Linked DNA regions of Homo sapiens: region 2 is linked to region 1. The links come from fine-mapping of genetic effects on gene expression. A gene starts in region 1. The other region holds a variant in brackets. All regions are shown on one strand. Distances are from middle to middle. Region 1 holds the start of C12orf75 (chromosome 12 open reading frame 75). Region 2 has its middle 23 kb from the start of APPL2.

Evidence for each region. PIP is the estimated chance that this variant, and not a neighbour inherited with it, causes the effect. A credible set is the group of variants that fine-mapping cannot tell apart.
Region 2: its variant is the best candidate, but not a certain one, in a credible set for the expression of C12orf75 in whole blood (INTERVAL, PIP 0.89).

The regions. Positions count from the first base shown.
Region 1 is chr12:105,327,514-105,332,896 of GRCh38, reverse strand. C12orf75 (chromosome 12 open reading frame 75) reads right to left here and starts at 2,206. Exons shown (of 6, transcript NM_001145199.2): 1 at 1,960-2,206. The coding sequence starts at 2,005. RefSeq lists an enhancer at 581-1,124 and silencers at 1,781-1,880, 1,911-2,570.
Region 2 is chr12:105,256,195-105,261,577 of GRCh38, reverse strand. No RefSeq gene overlaps it. Among named protein-coding and RNA genes, the nearest start is that of APPL2, 23 kb to the right of the region's middle. The variant G/T (reference allele first, on the strand shown) is at 2,603.

The sequences.
Region 1 (5,383 bases):
CTCCTAGGGAAAAAGTCAATCAAATATTCATAAAGATAATCATATTTCCCCAAGAAATCATATTTTCCCCCCAAATTTGATTTTTACATTAACATTTTAGAGCTAGCTCATCATACCTTACCATCTTTCTATTTTCTTTTCTTTTCTTTTTTTTTTTTTTTAGATGGAGCGGAGTTCCACTCTTGTTGCCCAGGTTGGAGTGCAATGGTGCGATCTCAGCTCACTGCAACCTCCGCCTCCCAGGTTCAAGCAATTCTCGTGCCTCAGCCTCCCAAATAGCTGGGATTACAAGCAGGCGCCACCACGCCCAGCTAATTTTGTATTTTTAGTAGAGACTGGGTTTCACCATGTTGGTTACACTGGTCTCGAGTTCCTGAGCTCAGATGATCCACCCACCCCAGCCTCCCAAAGTGCTGGGATTACACAGGCATGAGTCACTGCGCCTGGTCCATCATTCTGATTTTCATTTGGCAATGGTACCCCCTCCCCATCCCTAAAACTGACAAGCAGTTCATTAATAAATCAAAATGTACATGCATGAAACTAGCCTCATTTTAAGGGAAATCTGCTACAAATCCTTCCTACAATTTTTTTTAATGTGGATAACTTTTCTTCACCTTTTTTAAGTAGGCTACACATGCAGTGGATTGCATACGGCCACAGTACCTAGTAGACTGAGACACAATTTGAGTGCGGGGTGTGGCCCTGACATTGTTTCATACAAGCAGAGCTTTCTGGCCACAGGCAGGTTTGAAGCCCGTCTGCCCTCATTAGCATAAGGTGCTACACTAACCTTCCCCACTGTTAAATGAATCTAAAAAGTTCGCTCTCCTGTGGCTCTCTGCATTGTCACCAGGACAGGATTTAATTCAAGACTCAAATTGAGTCTTAAACTCCATTTTTTACCGGCGTCTGGGTTAAGGGATGTGACAGGCCCAAGGTTACAAAGTCATTGCCAGGGCCTCCACAGCCGCCTAGGAAATACCGCAGCCTCTGACTGCTGTTTGCATTTGCTGGTTAGGCTAGGATGTGGCATCTGGTTGACTTCAATTGGAGGAGATAGGAGCTCTTTATCCAAAAGGACACTGAAATAGGTCAGCAGTTATTACTCAAAACAGATCCAGGGTACCTTAAATCCCGAGACATAGGCAGGGTGAAATAGAAGGGTGAGTTTTGGCAAAAGTCACTTGACACAAAGCCTGGCTGGCCCGGGGAAGCTAGAAGACCTTGCCTGCCAATCAACATGAAGTGGTATAAAAAGAAGTTTCTATTTGTGTGTGTGTGTGTGTGTGTGTGTGTGTGTGTTTAATGAAAAGTATCTTAACAGACTGTTAATAATAAAGCTCTGTCTCACATATGTAAAACATCCTTACTGCTGCAGCTTCTCAGAGAAATCCTAAGAGCAGCCCAGCCGGTCTTCGGCATCAAGGCAGACACAGATGCGTTTTTGCAGCTCTGCTTCTAGTTCTCCCCAACCCCACTCCCACCCTTCCCCGCTTCCTGCCCCACCACCACTGCCCGAAAAGTCCTGTCTTGCTCTGCTGCACTTTTCCAGGTGCAGCGCCTTGGTTCCGAGGAGATGGGGGAGAGGCCTGGAGGAGCAAGTGTGGGAGGTGGGGGAGCGGCCGGGGACCACGTCCGGGAATCCTCTCCCCCAGGAGAGCCCTGAGACCCGCCAGCTGCAGGTGAGCCCCGGCGGCTGCAGGGGAGCCCGCGACAGTCCTCCCCGCGCTCCCTCGGCAGAGACGCCCCGCAGGCTCGACTGCTCCAGGCGCAACCGCCCCCGCGCGGGGGACTTGCCACGCTTTCGGTCTTTCCAGAAACGGGCGGTCTGCTCCTGTCCCGAAAATGGGGACGGGGAGAGGGGGCTGCGCGCCCCCCACCCAAGATCCCTGCACCCTTCCTTCCCGCCGCCTCTCCCGCCCGCCCCCGCCGGCCCCCGCCTCCCGCCGGACTCACCTTGGCCCGCGCCCGCGCTGGTGGCGGTGGAGTTCCCGCAGCCCATCGCGCAGCCGGCCGGGGAAGCCGCGCTCCGGAGCTCTCGGCCGCGGGTCCTGGGGGCGGAGACCCAGACGAAGGGCGGCGCACCCCGAGCGGGAGGCTGACGGGGCCGCGAGGGGCCAGGAACCGAGTGGGGGCCGCCCCCTCCCACCGCCGGGAGACGCGGCCCGGGGCGCAGCGGGCTGCGGGCTGCCGGGCGGAAACCACCCGGCACCCCTCGCCCCGGCCCCGCCCCGCCCGGGGACCCGCCGGACCCACCCGTCGCCCCAGCAACCTCGGCACTGGCCAATCCCCAGCCTCCTGCGCGCTTCGCGGTCGGCCATTGGTCGTTATTACGAGGGGCGGGAGTTTAAAGTGGGCCCCGGGGCGAGGGAGCGGCAAGGGGCGTGGCCGGCGCAGCGGGGTGGGGGTGCCCACCTGCCCACCCTCAGCATCCTCCTCGCCTTGTCTTTGCTTTTCTTTCCTCACTTCCCCTCCCTGCCCCAGGATGTGGGGAGGAGAGGAAGTAGCAGGGGGCACCCTGCACAGTGGACGCCCAATAAATGCTATTGACTGAATGTTGTGCAGGTCTGAAGCCAAAACCGAAATCCCCAGCTGCTTTAACAGAAGGCCAACGCAGCTCTGTTCCCCATACGCACTGCCTGGCAAAAGTTCTTCCCCAGATTGGTCATCTTGACCTATTCCTCTTTAAAACAAATGTCTGCAACGATTTCAATAACTTGGATTCAGGACCTCCTCTCTGATAAATGAGAGAACTGTGGATGGGCACGGTGCTGTACGTTTCAACATGATAGTTGGGCCAGCGTTACTGCAGTCAGACTGTCTGAGTTAAAGTCTTCGTTCTGCCCCGTGATAGCTGCGTGACCTCAGGAAAGTAACTTAACCCATTGGGTACATCCCTTGTTTCACCTATAAAATGACAGTAACTCAGGTACATATAAAGTACCTAACAAAGTTCCCTATCTTTAGTAAATATCAGCTATTATCATTATTATTATTAACTCTAATAGAAATGAATACAAATTCCTTAAAGGGAAAGACTATCTGATTTTTCATAGCGTCCTCCTGGCTTGTAATACAGACTCACTAAATGTTTTGTGAGGTGACTTCAAGCCAGGAATTAAAGCTCCATTTTAAATTCACTTAATATTTGTAGGGAGCCTAGCCTGTGCCAAGTCCTTTGTTAAGTTCCGGGGATACAAATATGTGGGAGACAGTCTAACCAGGCAGATAGATTAAAATAAATTAATTACAATATAGAAGGAATGTTAACAGAGGAATACAGGTGCCATAGAGTCCCAGAGGATGCTGGGATGCTAGTTAAAAGACTTGCCTAAGGCCAGGCATGGTAGCTTACACCTGTAAACTAGCACTTTGGGAGGCTGACACGGGCGGATCACGAGGTCAGGAGTTCGAGACCAGCCTAACATGGTGAAACCCTGTCTCTACTAAAAATACAAAGATTAATTGGGTGTGGTGGCATACACCTGTAATCCCAGCTACTTAAGAGGCTGAGGCAAGAGAATCACTTGAACCTGAGAGGTGGAGGTTGCAGTGGGCCGAGATAGCACCACTGCACTCAAGCCTGGGTGACAAAGCGAGATTCTGTCTCAAAAAAACAAAACAAAACAAAAAAAAAACAGACTTCCCTGAAACCATACTGTTGTGTTTACATAAAAATAAAAATATGAACCAGAATCAAGGACTTGGCAGGTTTTTGAACATGGCCTTTGAGGCAATGGTGCGTTCTATCATTCAGGATGCAAAATATACAGCATTCTCCATTTGAAAATTAGCTGTGGTAGCCATGTGCTGAGAGGATAATTAATTCTTGGATAAATAAAGGCATTTTTTAGTTGACTTCTAGAAGTACTGCTTCTCTACCAGCCTGTGCTGTCTTGGTTCAGTGTCCATCCTAATACATAGCCAGAACTGGGGAAAAGGGAACTATCAAGTAGCCGAAAGATATTCTCCTGCTTATTTCTGTGCTGACACTAGACTCCAGCCTTAGGACACTTGTAAGAGACAGAAAATGGACCTTGACACCTAGAAACTGGCCTAGAAGCTGTGACACTCAACAGCTGGGCCTTTGCATTCTCCTGTTAAACACAGTTGCATAGAACACCAATATCACACAAGGCCACTCTATAAACTATGAAATGAGACAAAAAACAAGGTGACTCGGTAATCTTGTCTAAGTGCTGACAAAAACAAGGTCATTGTGCAAACCCCCAAAACACCAAACATCTCCCCATCCTGCCTGATAGGATTGTCTGCTGCTGCTTTACCAGTTATGGTTTTAGCCCTGTTCTTGTCTTCCTGCCTAGAGATGAGGTTCATTAAGAATCTCTAATCATAGAATTGTCCCTGCTTCCTGACAATATCCAATGTAGAAAAAAAAAAAAGTTCTGCTTCCTTAAATCCCAACCAAAATCACCTATTATGAACCTAAATCCTGTAGGTTCTTTTCTAACACTCACTTACTGAGATATCTCATGGTTCCTCGTAGTGTGCATTCTGCCCTATAATGTTATAGATTATGTGATCTATCCATTATTTCAACAAGCACTATTGAGTATCACCTTAAGAGCTCCAGCCATGAGGACTTACCTGTTGGGTACAATGTACACTATTTGGGTGATGGTTACACTAAAAGCCCAGACTTCACCACCACCCAATACATCCGTGTAACAAAAATGCACTTGTACCCCCAATCTGTTTTTAAAGTGCCAGCCACTCTTCTAAATGTTTGAGAGACAGCAGTGAACAAGAGAGAGAGGAAAAATCAAGTGGGAGGAGATACATCAAAGCAAATACAATCAGATAATTTTAGATACAAGTGCGATGGGAAAAAATAAGTCACTGGAATAGGAGACTAGGAGTAGAGGGAGAGGTGCTATTCTAGATATAAGGTTGGTGCAAAAGTAATCACAGTTTTTGCTATTACTTTTAATGGCAAAAACTGCGATTACTTTTGCACTAACCTAATAGAATGGTCACAGAAGGCCCTCTGAAGAAAGGATATTTTTGTGAGGTGTGGTTGATGTAAAGAAATCAGACATTGGCCGGGTGCGGTGGCTCACACCTGTAATCCCAGCACTTTCAGAGGCCGAGGAGGGCAGATCACAAGGTCAGGAAATCGAGACCATCCTGGCTAACACGGTGAAACCCCATCTCTACTAAAAATACAAAAAATTAGCCAGGCGTGGTGGCGGGCACCTGTAGTCCCAGCTACTCAGGAAGCTGAGGCCGGAGAATGGCATGAACCTGGCAGGCGGAGCTTGCAGTGAGCCAAGATCACACCACTGCACTCCAGCCTGGGTGACAGAGCGAGACTCTTGTCTCAAAAAAAAAAAAAAGAAAAAAAAAAAAAAAGAAATCA
Region 2 (5,383 bases), 71 kb after region 1:
TGCCTTCAAAATATTTTGCATCCAGTTTTGACATATGATGGCTTCCATATTTATAATTTTAGTTTTGTAACAGCACTGTCCCTGTTGTTTAAATTGTTATCCAAAGGCATGATGAAAGACATCAAGACTTGTCACAGTCAACTCTAAGTTTTCTCAGGTTGTACATGTGAGCTTATATGTACATTGGAGCAAAATAGAAAACAAAGTGTAATTTGAAACCTTATATGTACGTAGTGTAGGAAATAACTATATAGTTATATATATGCAAAAGTCCATATGCAAAAGAGGTTTAGTAACTGAGGGAACCAAACGTTCATAGGAATGAGAAAATCTGAGCTGCTTCTATAATAATGCCCCATGGCTTTGCTAGGCTACTTAACTTCATAGTTTCATTTCCCCATTTGTAATACTAAACTAGGTGAGATTGCTTTTATTGCCATTATTAAAGCTGTTTTTCAGGATCTCTGGTTACTCTCCTAATGAGATTTTTAGAGTTATTTTAGCATAAATTTCATATCAGGCATACATTAGCTTATTCCACAGTACAGTATGTTTAACCTGTTTCTAAAAATGGGACCCTCTGCCCATTAACCTTATGCTAGATTTGTTCTTCAACAGGAAAAGTATCCAATATTTCAGAGGAAAAATTTGGACTATAGCAATAAATGGCCTAGCCATGTTTTACTATTGAAATTAAAAAATAACCATTGTATTCCATTCTTTTTTTTCTGGTTCCTTGGGTGCACATAGATGGGAGGAGGCAAAGTACTTTCCCTCTCCATTTTTTCCTAATTCTTTGCTTGAATCCACATATTTGAGCCAAGAACCTCTTGCCTATAGCTGGGAATGCACCCAGCAGTTGATTTTTGGCTTGTATCTGCTTGTTTCTAAGAAAGTCCTCTTTATTCACCAAGGTCCCAAACAAAAGCTGTTCTCTGTTAGACCTTTCCAGACCATCCACCGTGACCCTCCAGAAAGTCACTCATCCCTTCCCCCATATCCAATAATACTTTGAAACTACCACTGGTACAGCACAGAAGCCATTATACCACTTTTATTTAGGGAAGAACTGTTCCTTATTTATCTTTGCATTCCCAATGCCTAGATTTATTGCATATGTATCAGTGTCAGGCATAATGCTAAGTCATGTTATTATTGACTGAAAAGAATACAGTGAGGTTTTAGGGACCTCACTTAAATTCCTTGAATGTAATGAATATAATAAGGAGAAGTGGATGAGTTTGTGCAGCAAAGACTGATTTCAATATTCATTTTCCATTTCCTCCATTGTAATAGAACTCCTGGTTTCTGGCTGGACACAGGGCAATGCCAAGATAAAGACTGAATTTCCCAACCTTCTTTGCAGCTAGGTATGGCCATGTGAGTCAGTTCGGTCCAATGGGATATAAGTAAAAGTCTCATATGGCAGCTTCTGAAATCCTCCTTAAAAGAGATCTGGCAAATACCGTTTACTATTTCTTCCTTGCCCCTTTCTACTTTCTGCCTGGATTGTAGATTCAATGGCTGGAGCTGAGCAGCCTTCTTGGGCCATGATGTAACCTATGGAGGTTATATGATGGAGCTTCGGGATAGAAGGAGCCTAGATCCCTGAGGACCTCATGAAGAAAAGCTACCACATTAGCCCTAGATTGACAATTCTGGACTTTTACGTGAGAGAGAAAATCTGTGTGTTTAAGCCATGGTTATCCAGGGAGTAGGGAAGGGGGCTGTGCTACTAACATTGAACCTAATCTTGATACTGGATTGGGTTTTTCTGCTTCTTAGACAAAGTGTTTTGTAACAATCTCAAGCAACAACAACAAAAACCTTCCCTCAAAGGTTTAGATGAGGCATCTGGAATCCTTAAGCTAGAAAACTAAATTTATTAATATCACTGATTGCCCTCCCCCTAATCTTGGGCAAAAGTTAGTAGGTTTTGTTATTGCATTCTTATTGTATGCCAGAAATGATAGTATGCTTCACAAGTATGATTTTATTTTATCCTTGTAAAAACCATATGAGGTAGGGACTTGTATCATCTTCACAGTAGAGATGCTAAGTAAACAGCTGTGAGTGATCAAACAGGCCCAAAGAAAGGGCCGACTTCCCTCCTAGTCCATGCATTAATCACTGCTGGACCCTCACTGCAGGGAGGGGCTAAGGAGAGACCCTTCCTCTGTCGGCGAGGGAGCTTTACTTGCAAATTCAGTGAGCAACAATGTGGCAAATGCCAGATCATCAGGGAATGGAATTCTGCTATCAACAAGGTGACCACTGTGTACACCCCCAGGAGAAGAAGGAACTGGTTTAGGAGCTTGTCTGCTGACATCTCTATAGAGAGTCAGAGGCTAGTGAAACTCACCTCTTATGAGGAAGTCAAGGAAGGACGATGGGTCAGGAGAGAACATGGGATGGATCAAGTGGAGTGCTGCAGCACAGGCAGAGGTTGGGGAGGTCTGCCCACAGCCTAAAATGACCTCAGCCATAGAACCAAAGTCATACATAATGACACAGGCACACAGAAACCATAGAGCCAGCTTCACATTTGAAGACTGGAGAGTGAAACACCCACAAATTCATATTTAATATGAAAAGCATTCAG[G/T]AAAAAAAGATGTATACATTTTGCTACCCTGACCTCAATAACAACCCCCCAATCATAATGAAAAAGTAATTCACTCCCTTTTTATCATCTATGGTATAAACACTCATTCATTCCAGAAATATGTATTGAGAGACCACTCTGTGCATGGGCTGTACCAAGCAGGGCCTGGGGCACACGGTGGAAGGAGGGCCTCCAGCACAGTGCAGTCAGGTGGGAACACCTGCCTATAAAGAGATCCTTATAGTGCAAGGGGCCACATGCCATATGGAGGTATGTAAGGGCTGGTTGAAGCTTAAATGAGAAGCATTCCACCTTGGGGTCAGGGAAGGTCTCCAAGGAAGATGATTAAGTAGGGTCTTGAGAGATGACTTTGACATCCCACAAAACAAAAAGAAAAAAAAGGAACTCATGCTGGTTAATATAGAGGAAACACCCTCTCCCTCATAGACAGCCTACAGTAGCTCCAGGGATAGCACTATTCATGTTAGAGAATCACAATTCATGCTTATAAAAATGGCCTTAACACACCAAGAATAGAATGTTACATTCTGTCTACTCTGTTTAATAAGGCTAAGAAGAACAAAGGCACTTTTCTCCCAAGATTTTCTGATCCTCCTCAAAAGTATTTTTTAAATAACAAACTGACAATTCAGTTATATGGGGAAAAAAACATTGTATTCCTAAAAATGCTACATCAAAGGAATCTTTTCACAAGAACACTCCTTCTCCACATATTTCCATTGCTCCCATTTTTCTTAATTAAATATTTTTAATGATTACAGGTACATAATAGGTATATGTATTCATGGGGTACATGTGATGTTCTGATTCAGGCATACAATGTGTAATAATCACATCAGGGTAATTGGGGTATCAAAGACTTTTCTTCAATTACATAGCATCCCAGAAAGCAAGATTCAGGTATAGAATCACATTTTCAGGGCAGTTCAGTGTGGTGGGCAAAGCACAGGCATCAGAGTCAGCTAGATCTGAGCCCAAATCCCAACGCCACCTCCAAACTTGTCATGTAAGCCTCTGTTTCCTAATACACACAATAAGAATAATGATACATGCCTTGCGTGGTTGTCGACCTCAATTATATAAGCACCTAACACAACATCTAACATACATTAGGCCTCAATGTATGGCAGTTATCATGGTCTATGATTGTGTTGCTGTTGCTGTTACTCTATTCCAAGCATTCCAAAATGTTGTACTAGATAGGCAAAATTGCTATAGAACAATTTTCCAGCAGAGATGGACAATCCTATCTGCCTCATTTGAATCTTCAGTGACCTTCTGGGTGAGCAGAGTGACTCACAGAGCTATGACTAAGAGCCAAGTCCTCCACGGTGTGTCAAAATCATGATTTAACTTTATTCAGGAATGAGAATTCCGTGAAAACTTATTTGTGGGTTGGGAATGATTTCAAGTGGTCATTAGATCCAGCAACCTACTCTCACTTCCAATATGTCAGAGCTCATGGGAGTCGTTTAAATTAATGAAGTGCAGTGAGTGGCTGAGGCTGTAGACATGGCCAGTCTAGCCTCTAACATACCCTGGAGGGACCCAAACTATTCAACAAAGGGATCTTCATGGAGTCCAAGCTATTCCACAGTGCCTAGGACTTAACAGAGGCTTGCCGAAAGTAATGATGACCCTCATGAAACTTCTTCACCTAAAACACATCTACAACTTGATTTTCTAAATCCTCAATAGTTTCTGAAGTGAGTTTGCTCAAACTTTCCAAAATATTTCTTCTTTTAGACATGATTAAGCCTGAAAAATTTCATCCTAGCCGGGAGAACGCTAGTGAAAAATAAACTATGTATGAGTAATGTACTTCTATAAAGGAGGCCTTCGTGACATTCTTCTCTACTGGAGAACACTTTGAAATTACATGAAGGCAGAAGGTTGATGGGTCCAGGGATGGGGAGAAAAAAGGGAGAGGATGGAAAACAGACCTATGTCATCAAGAATCCAAGCATCAAACAACAAATCTGTTCTCTCTGGTTACCCAGAGTTGAGCACTGTAACCAACTGCACTCCAAATGAGCCACGTGCAGTTTTGATGACCAGATATGGTAAGTTTTGCAAAGAAATAAACCTGAAATTTGTGAGAGAAGCTATTAAGTGAGGGGAAGAGATGGAAAATGGTTGATATGGTTTGGCTCTGTGTCCCCACCCAAATCTCATCTTGAATCGTATTCCCCATGTGTCAAGGGAGGGAGGTGATTGAATTATGGGGATGGTTTCCCCGATGCTATTCTCATGACAGTGAGTGAGTTTTCACAAGATCTGACGGTTTTATAAGTGTCTGGTATTTCCCCCGCTTGCACTTCTCTCTCCTACCACCATGTGAGGAAGGTCCTTGCTTCCTCTTTGCTTTCCACCAAGATTGTAAGTTTCCTGAGGCCTCCTCAGCCATGTGGAACTGTGAGTCAATTAAACCTCTTTTCTTTATAAATTACCCAGTCTCAGGCAGTTCTTTATAGCAGTGTGAGAACATACTAGCACAACAGTATTCAACCCGTAGTGGCTTTCTGAAGTCTAAGGAGGACCTCTGTGAGAATTTAGTGAGAAGTCTTGAGCCCTGGCCCAGGAGCTGGTGCAGCTCTTGCAGCAGCTAAGGGACTAATTTCATGTTCATTCTGTGTTGATCTCTGCAGTGGATGGAGGAAAAAAAAAAAAGATAACTCTGGCAAGACTGAGCATCCATCTTTTGGTATCTGAGAATGGAGCAAAGAAAGAGAATCCTGAGCAGGAGGTGGAAGGAGATAA